Linked DNA regions of Homo sapiens: region 2 is linked to region 1. The links come from fine-mapping of genetic effects on plasma protein levels. A gene starts in region 1. The other region holds a variant in brackets. All regions are shown on one strand. Distances are from middle to middle.

The links. PIP is the posterior inclusion probability: the model's chance that the variant is causal. The UK Biobank Pharma Proteomics Project read protein levels with antibody pairs (Olink). The fine-mapping took linkage between variants from a reference panel, not from the people measured, so its PIPs are less certain.
Region 2: its variant is fine-mapped to the plasma level of the GPD1 protein (UK Biobank, PIP above 0.99).

The regions. Positions count from the first base shown.
Region 1 is chr12:50,101,852-50,106,194 of GRCh38, reverse strand. GPD1 (glycerol-3-phosphate dehydrogenase 1) reads right to left here and starts at 2,187. Exons shown (of 8, transcript NM_005276.4): 1 at 2,104-2,187; 2 at 1,444-1,621; 3 at 507-647. The coding sequence starts at 2,144. RefSeq lists an enhancer at 3,128-3,177.
Region 2 is chr12:50,804,356-50,808,740 of GRCh38, reverse strand. All of the region lies in intron 3 of ATF1 (activating transcription factor 1), which reads right to left. Among named protein-coding and RNA genes, the nearest start is that of TMPRSS12, 36 kb to the left of the region's middle. The variant A/G (reference allele first, on the strand shown) is at 2,345.

The DNA of each region.
Region 1 (4,343 bases):
CTGTGTCCCTCCCGACAGGTCCTGCCCCATTCCAACCCAGCTCAAGTTTGCTGTGAGGAGGCCAGACAGCATGTGACCAACTGTCCTGCCACATACCCTCAACCAGTCTACTTCTCCAAGGCAACGGGTCCCCTCCACATCCCTAGGCAACCCCGCCTGACTGCCCCAACAAACTGCCATTCAGTGACCAGTCACTGCTCCAAACCAGCTACTCTTCACACTTCTCAAACCAGCCCGCTTCTCATATCTCCCAGGCATTCCTTTATACCTCCGAAACTCCCCGAGAGGACCTCCAAACCAATCTCGTCTCCTCCCTTCAGCCTCCCTTCCAGTGACCCCCAGCACCTCACTGCTTTCCTAAGCCTCTCCAGAGCCAACTGCCTCTCTTTTCTCCAGCAAACTCTTGGCCTGCGTCTGCCATTTTCTGTTCTCCTTGCTTCACCCACCCTGAACCCCACAACAGTGAGCCGCACCCTCCCCCATCCACATGAAGGTGTCCCTGGCACCTTAATAAGAGATATGCCAGTGGCGTTTGCCTTCAGATGGCCCTTGAGCTGGTCACAGATCTTGCCGATGAACTGATGGGGCACCACAAAGATCAGGATGTCAGCATCCTCTGCAGCCTGGACCACATCTGGGACAGCCACCTGTGGGGGTGACCAAGTGCTCGCGGGCCTGGCAGACCTCCCCTAGCCCCTGTGGAACCCTATTCAGGAGATCTGGGAGCCAAAGAGTGAGGCTGGTAGGGGAGCAGGAAGGCTTGTTTGGGACTGAATCTAGAAGGACTGAACTTGGAGGAATAAGACACTCTACTCCCTCCCCCCAGCTACCACTCTGTCTCCCTCCAGCTGTCCTGGGCTCTTGAGGACTCCTGGAAACCTCATCCCAGCACTCTCCTATCCCTTGGCTGTGGGACAGTGCGGGAGGCCAAAAGCAGCCTGGGCTTGGCAAAAGAAAGAGCTCAAATAAGATTTCATCACCCAGCTCCTCAGGAACCCCAGCTGGGAAGGGGGAGCCCCAGCCTTTCTGCTCTCTTCCCTGCTTCCCCTTTCCAGGTGGGGAGAGCCACGTGGATTTGACCAAAGACCGTAAGTCCAAGGAGCAGCCTCCAAGTCGGCTACTCACTCAGTGAATGAGTAACAGGATTAGTGCCGGAGGCAGGCACTACTGGACCCCAAGTCTGGGAGCCCAGTCTTTGGCTGCCATGGAGACCAACTTGTTCTCCCATCCCTTCCCCACCCACCCGCCTGGGAGCCTGTGAGGGGAAAGCATAGGTTCTCCTCAGTCCTCAGGAAAGGGCCCAGAGCAGCCCTCCTGAGACCTTCCCAAGTCCTGCTGCACCTGAAGCGGCCCTCTCAGCAGGAGGCACCTGTTGAGTAAGGTCGGCTCCAACTCCTGGCCCTCCCTTCCTCTCCCTGTTCTTCGCAGGGTGTTGGGGCTCACCACATTTGGGGGCAACTTGTGCCCTGGCAGGTATTTGACATTCTCATGCTGCGTGTTGATGATCTCAGTCAGCTTTTTGCCTCCAATGTCTTCCTCAAATACCCACATGGTCACCCGTGGGTCAAACTGTGCCAGCTGGGCTGCATTGCCACCCACGATCTTGGCGATGGCTGAGCCCCTGGTGGGAGGGGGAGCACAGGAAAGTACAGGAGGAGGGAACAGTGGCAGGAGTTGGGGCAGCGCCCCACCTCAGGATCTCACAGCAGCCCCCCAGGCTGTTCACTCCTACCTACCTTCCTTATCACCTCCACTCCCATGACAAATAGTCCCCAGTGACCTGGCAGTAGAAAGGAGACTCAGTCTCCTCACCCTTTGCTACTAGAGAAGGGAGCCCCACTTCTCATCTTCCCACCCCCAAACTCAAGCGGCTCTTCACATAGAGAGCTCTGGAGACGCCTTCCCATGGTGAACAGGTGCAGCTGCCCAGGAGGGCGGGGGTCAGGAGAGGGCCGGGCACCGTCTGTCCTGTGCTGCTATGATAGAAGATAGCAGCAGGGGCTGAACAGGAACCTGAGGGCCTTTCCCACCCATTCTGCCTCCTACCCACCTCTGTCTTGGGGGGCCTACCCTTCCCCCATATCACTTGACAGAGCTGCTTACCAGTTCCCGGAGCCTACAATGCAGACTTTCTTGCTAGCCATGGTGCCGCGTCTCTGCCTGAGCCGGCTCAGTGCCACACTCCCTAGCTCCTCTGCCGGCTAGGAGCATTTAACTCCACCACACGTGGGTGCAGCCAAGCCCCGCCCTCCAGGGGTGGGTGGGGAGGCTGGCGCCCAGGGAGATAGAGAGTCTGGCAGAGCCAGGGAAAGGAGAGACAGGGGTACAGACAGGTGTGGAACAGGAATGGGGCAGAGACTAGGCCCAGCTTTTTCTCCTGGGCTCATCGGCTGACAGTGCTGGCAAGCTTCTTCCCTTGGCCCCAGCCCAGCTTCCCACCATGGTCTCATTTTGAGGTCTGCTAAGAAAATAGCCCAGATAAGGAGCAGGTGACTGCTCTCCCTTGCTCCTTTCTGTCCCCCAGCATGAAATAAATTGTATTTAGCTTCAGTAGCAGCTAGGGGAATGCTTTTCAGAGGTAGGCTCCTCCATGACCCCCTATCCCCCCGCCAACCCTGCCACATATCCTCACAGGACCCTGTTCCACAGTTCTGTCCTCCAGCAGGCCCACGCTAGCTCCACTGCAGGGCTGGGGTGGGGGATGTGGGCCCACTTCCCACCTCTAAAGATGAGGCCACATAAGAGGTAAGGGCCTGCTTTGAGGACAGCCCAGCTCAAAAAAGGATGAGAGACTCCAGGTGCCTCAAAAGACAAGATTGTCTTGGTCACCCACAGAGGTCATCTTGGGGACTCATCCATGGGCCTCTCAGATGATCCCCACCCAAAAATGTGTTCTAGGGAAGGTGGGAAAGGTTAAAGTTAGAGAGCTCTGAGAATTGCGGTACACAATTTTGTTGTAGACTCTGGGCTTAAGAGGACAGGAGAGAATAGGAGGCAGGCAGAGTGCACACTGTCCTTGAAAGGCTTTGAGCCTCCTTCAACTCCTCCTCTCAGGGGTTTCCAAGGTACTGCCCCAGGGGCTTCATCAGGTGAATGGCTAGTTTGCAGAGGCCAGAAAAGGGGAAGGCAGGCAGTACCCGGGGCAGCTGTGTCCGTGGGGCTTTGTGGTCTCAGATGCTGTGATTGGGGGTAAGTTTGGTGTATGTTTTTTGGGGAAGGGCGAGAATGGAAGGAGCACCCTCAGCAGTTCAGGGCTCTGCATCGCCCACGGCCATCTGTTTGTCTAAGACGAGGGAAGCTCTGGTTTCCAGGCTGATCTGGAGAGTGGAGCAAGAGGCTCCTAACACTGTGCACCTTGGCCTAGAGGGCAGACACCACTGTGTGCTCATGTGCTGACCTCCTGGCTTGGCAGACGGCTAGGTGGGTGTTGCCATCCCCCTGGGCTGTTGCTGGCCAGCAACTGGTAACAAGCACTGGGCTACAGGGGAGTCTGTGTGCAACCCATGGGTAGGAGTAAGCAGGCAGGAGGTCAAGACTGGGGAGAAATGGCTTTCTAAGTTCCGGGGACTGCCCAGGAAAAACCAACCATATTCTCCTTCCATGGCCAGTAATTTCCCATAGGGAAACGGACATGAAATCAGTAGTTGGCTGTTTTTCTTAGCACAATGTTATACCTAATACAGAAACAGCCTCCCACAGACCACTCCTTTATTGCACTGGCACTGAGATGAAGGCTCCAGTGCCAGGCTGCCAGCTGGGAGCACTGATTACGGGTGATGGAAGAGAAAGGATGCTTCTGTCCCTGGCACAAATGATGGGAGCCCCAAAGAATGGATGTTTATGCATAAAATAACCCCCTTGTTTTTGCCTAAATGCTTCCCTCTCTCATTTTGCCCCTACAATCATTTTAGATAGTGTGGAGACTAAGAATGTGCTCATTTACATGGGAATAAAGAGGGTGCAGAGATTCAGAATCGGCTCATCACAGGAAGTTATCTGTATCACTAGAGCTCTTTTCCCAAGAGCAAACTGTAGATTTGCTTGAAATTAATAATGGTTCATCAGCCATTCATTACACATGTAATTAGCCTGGGTAAAAACAGATGCCATTTCAATGTCCTTGACATCAATTTTCTCCACTCCTAGTTATCGGCCCAACCACTCCTCTCTGCTTTCCCTTCTCAAGTCTGATAAACCCCAAGTTCCGGAGTAGGAACAGTGGTTGGATTTTTTGGTGGGTTTGATTACATATATTGAACAGGCAATACTAGAATGTTCCCATCCAAACAGGCAAAGGATAATTTTTAAACTACAACTTTGGAAAGTGGTTGTACTCTGATCCT
Region 2 (4,385 bases), 700 kb before region 1:
CAATAATCTACCAGACACTTAAACTATTACACCAAAGAATGCTTTTATTTAGCATATATTATTATAATGATGTGCTCCAGGCTGATTACATATTAGTTTAAAGAGTAAAGAGGGCTGGGCATGTGGCTCCCATCTGTAATCCCAACACTTTGGGAGGCTGAGGTGGGCGAATGACTTGAGGTCAGGAGTTTGGAGACCAGCCTGGCCAACATGGTGATACCCAATCCCTGCTAAAAATACAATAATTAGCTGGACATGGTGGTGCGAGCCTGTAATCCCAGCTACTCGGGGGGCTGAGGTAGAAGAATTGCTTGAACCTGGGAGGCGGAGGTTGCAGTGAGCCAAGATGGTGCCACTGTACCCCCAGCCTGGGCGACAGAGTGAGATTCCATCTCAAAAGAAACAAAAACAAACAAAAAAAAACAATAAAACAGTTCTCCAAACGAAGTAGGTAAGAAAAACTATAAAATGCACAGCGTATCAATGATGAATAAAATTGCTTATTTTAACAAAAAGAGGTAAATATGATCCCATGGGTATCCCTCAGACTTGGTGAAATGGCACTAATGACAGGAATAAGGGATGGAAAAAGTATTCCTTGCTGAAAAGAAAGGTCTTTCAAGACAATTGGGGATGGGCACAGTGGCTGACGCCTATAATCCCAGCACTGTGGGAGGCCAAGGCAGGCGGATCACCTGAGGTCCGGAGTTCAAGACCAGCCTGGCCAACTTGGCAAAACCCCATCTCTACTAAAAATGCAAAAATTAGCTGGGCATGGTGGCTCACGCCTGTAATTCCAGCTACTTGGGAGGCTGAGGCAGGAGAATTGCTTGAACCCGGGAGGTGGAGGCTCCAATGAGTGGAATTCATGCCACTGCACTCCAGCCTGGGCGACAGAGTGAGACTCTCTCAAAAAAAAAAAAAAAACAAAAAAAAAACACACACACAATTGGGGGTAGAGGAAAGAGTAGGCAATATGCATTGTTTGCTTCTGAAAAAAGAAAAAAGAAATGCTTAAGAATTCTATGTTCACTGTAGAAAAATGAGAAAACTGAAATACTTACGTGAAAACAACAACAAAAAATAATCCACAAAGGAAAAAGAAAGCCCTTAGAATGAAAATGGCTATTTTATTTTATCTATGCCAACTTCCCAGCCCATGGAGAAATTCTCTAACATTCCTGAAAACCTCTACTTCCAGGAAAAAGGCACCCACTATTTCCAAAAAGTAAACCATTCTATTATTGAATAGTTAGAGCCTTTCCTTCTTTGGGTCCAAAACTGGTTCCATCCAGTGAAACTAAAGAAATTTATTTATTATTTTTTTCTTTTCTTTTGAGACAGAGCCTCACTCTGTTGCCCAGGCTGGAGTACAGTGGCATGATCATGGCTCACCCCACCGTGACTTCTCAGGCTCAAGCGATCCTCCTGCCTCAGCCTCCCAAGCAGCTGGGAATATAGGTACACGCCATCATACCTGGCTAATTTTTTATTTTTTTAGTAGAGATGGGGCCTATGTTGCCCAGGCTGTTCTTGAACTCCTGGGCTCAAGTGATTCTCCCACCTAGGCCTCCTTAAGTGTTGGGACTACAGGCATGAGTCACAGCAAGAAATTTAAGCCTAATCCCAATTCTATATCCATGCCCTACTTTGCGATATTTGATAATTGCTACATGTCTTCCTTATTCTAGGCCAAATACTTTCAGTTTTTTCACGTGTTCTTCTATAACATGTTGAAGATCCTTCTCCAGTTTGTCTCCTTTCTGTGGACTGTCGTCCCACCAAGAGCTAATACAACTGTAGACTATATTAAGAGAAGTTCCACAGGAAGCACAATGGAGGTGTCAGTCCTATAGGACTCTGTTTTAGGCATTTCTGTAGAATAGTCAGAGTGCTTCCTAAACCTGCCTATGTAACAGAATCATTCTGGAGAGGTTTGTTGAATCTAGATTCCCATCTGGTGGCCATAATCATTGAGTAAGTAGGTCTAGAGTAGAGCTCCAGATCCATTTAACAAACTGCCTGCATGGTCTTTTTTTTTTTTTCACAAGTACACCTCTGTCCAATGCCTGCATGGTCCTACAGCCAGTCTATCATGAGACTGTGGAATGCTGCACCCATTTATTTTTCCATTTTAAATTATGAAACACTTTGAGTATAAAGAAAAGTACAGGGGAAGATGCTGCATCTGGCGTTGCCGTGGCTGTGCCTTGGCCTGTGCAGCCTCCTGGTGGGGCAGGCAGAGGCCCTGAGCCCCATGGATCTGCTGGAGCAAAGCCCGCCCTGTGTGGTGCTGTGCAGGCAGAACCTGGTGTTGATGGGAACCATTGTCAGCATCCTGCTG[A/G]TAACTGTCATCCTTATGGCATTTTGTGTCTACAAGCCCATCTGGTGTCAATGACAGCCAAGTAAACAAGTTCTTCAATGAGTACTTGGGAACAGGATAAGTTGTGCTGCGTATGGGCCAATGGAGAGGTTGAAATCAGAACTTTCCTAGCTGAAAATGACCTTTGGTCTGGACAGTTGGTAAATGCTAAATGATTTAGGAAAAAACATCTACTAGCAATTATTTTTTTCTTTTTTTTTTTTTTCTTTGAGACAGTTTCGCTTTTGTTGCCCAAGCTGGAGTCAGTGGTGCAATCTCGGCTCAATGCAACCTCTGCCTCCCAGGTTCGAGCAATTCTCCTGCCTCAGCCTCCTGAGTAGCTGGGATTACAGGCGTGCGCCACCACACCCGGCTAATTTTTGTATTGTTAGTGGAGACGGGGTTTCACCATGTTGGCCAGGCTGGTGTTGAACTCCCGACCTCAGGTGATCTGCCCACCTGGGCCTCCCAAAGTGCTGGGATTACAGATGTGAGCCACTGTGCCTGGCTTTATTTTTTTTCTCAACACTGTAATGCAAATAATTGGCCACCAAGTCTGCTTCTCAGTCTTTCTTTTGATATCTGACTTAAGAGCAAGACCTGAAAACTCCAAATTCAGTGTAAAGATGGGAGTGTTCATAAGGAAGGAAAACATGGTAACCCTGCAAATGTCTGTAAGAACCACACTGGAAAGAACTAATTATTCATGCTTGAAAATATTAATAAGGAGACTTACTACATAGACATTCCCTACCTAAGAACCATTTGGTCACAATGGGTTAAGAATCACAAAAGGTTTTTTTTTTTTTTTTTTTTTGAGACAGACAGGGTCTCACTCTGTCACCTAGGCTGGAGTAAAGTGGCACAATCACGGCTCACTGCAGCCTTGATCTCCCAGGCTCAAGTGATCCTCCCACCTCAGCCTCCCGAGTGGCTGGGACTACAGGCATGCACTACCACACTCAGCTAATTTTTTGTATTTTTTTGTAGTGACAAGGTATCCCTATGTTGCCCAGGCTGGTCTCAAACTCTTGGGCTCAAGCAATCTGGCCACCTCGGCCTCCCACAGTGCTGGGATTACAGGCATGAGCCACCGTGCCTAGCCTTCCTGTACCTATTATTCTACTCTAATTCCAGTATGATCACAGAGCATACTGTGCATGATTTCAGTTCTTTTAAATTTGTTAAGATTTGTTATGACCCAGAATGTGGTACTTTTTGGCAGATTTTCTTCATTCTACAGCTGCTGGGTCAAGTGTTATAAAAATGTCAATTAGGCCAAGCTCATGCCTGTAATCCCAGCACTTTGGGAGACCGAGGTAGGCAGATCACAAGAACAGGAGCTCGAAACCAGCCTGGACAATATAGTGAAACCCTGTCTCTACTAAAAATACAAAAAAAGTTAGCTGGGCGTGGTGGTGGGCGCCTGTAGTCCCCACTACTTGAGGCTGAGGCAGGAGAATTGCTTGAACCTGGAAGGCGGAGGTTGCAGTAAGCCAAGATCGCGCCACTGCACTCCAGCCTGGGTGACAGCGTGAGACTCCGTCTCGGGAAAAAAAAAAAAAAAAGATCTTGTTGGCTTCTGATATCATCTGGCATTAGGTTCTTCTATAATCTTTCTGATTTTCTGACTGTAAGTTCTAATGTATCCTGAGACAGGTTTACTGAAATCATCAACTGCAACTGTGGACCTGTTTATTTCTCTTTTCAGTTCTGTTAGTTTCTTTTTAGAGATAGGGTCTTGCTGTCACCCACACTAGAGTGTAGTGGCTCAATCATAGCTCACTGCAGCCTCCAACTCCTGGGCAGCTGGGACCAGAGGCACACATCACCACGCCTGGCTAACTTTAATTTTGTGAAGAGACAGGGTCTCACTATGTTGCCCTGGCTGGTCTTGAACTCCTGGGCTCATACAATCCTCCCTCCTTGGCCTCTGGAAGGGCTGAGATCACAGGTGTGAGCCACTGGGCTCTGCCCTACTAGTTTTTGATAAATATATTTTAAAGCTCTTTTGTTAGATGCA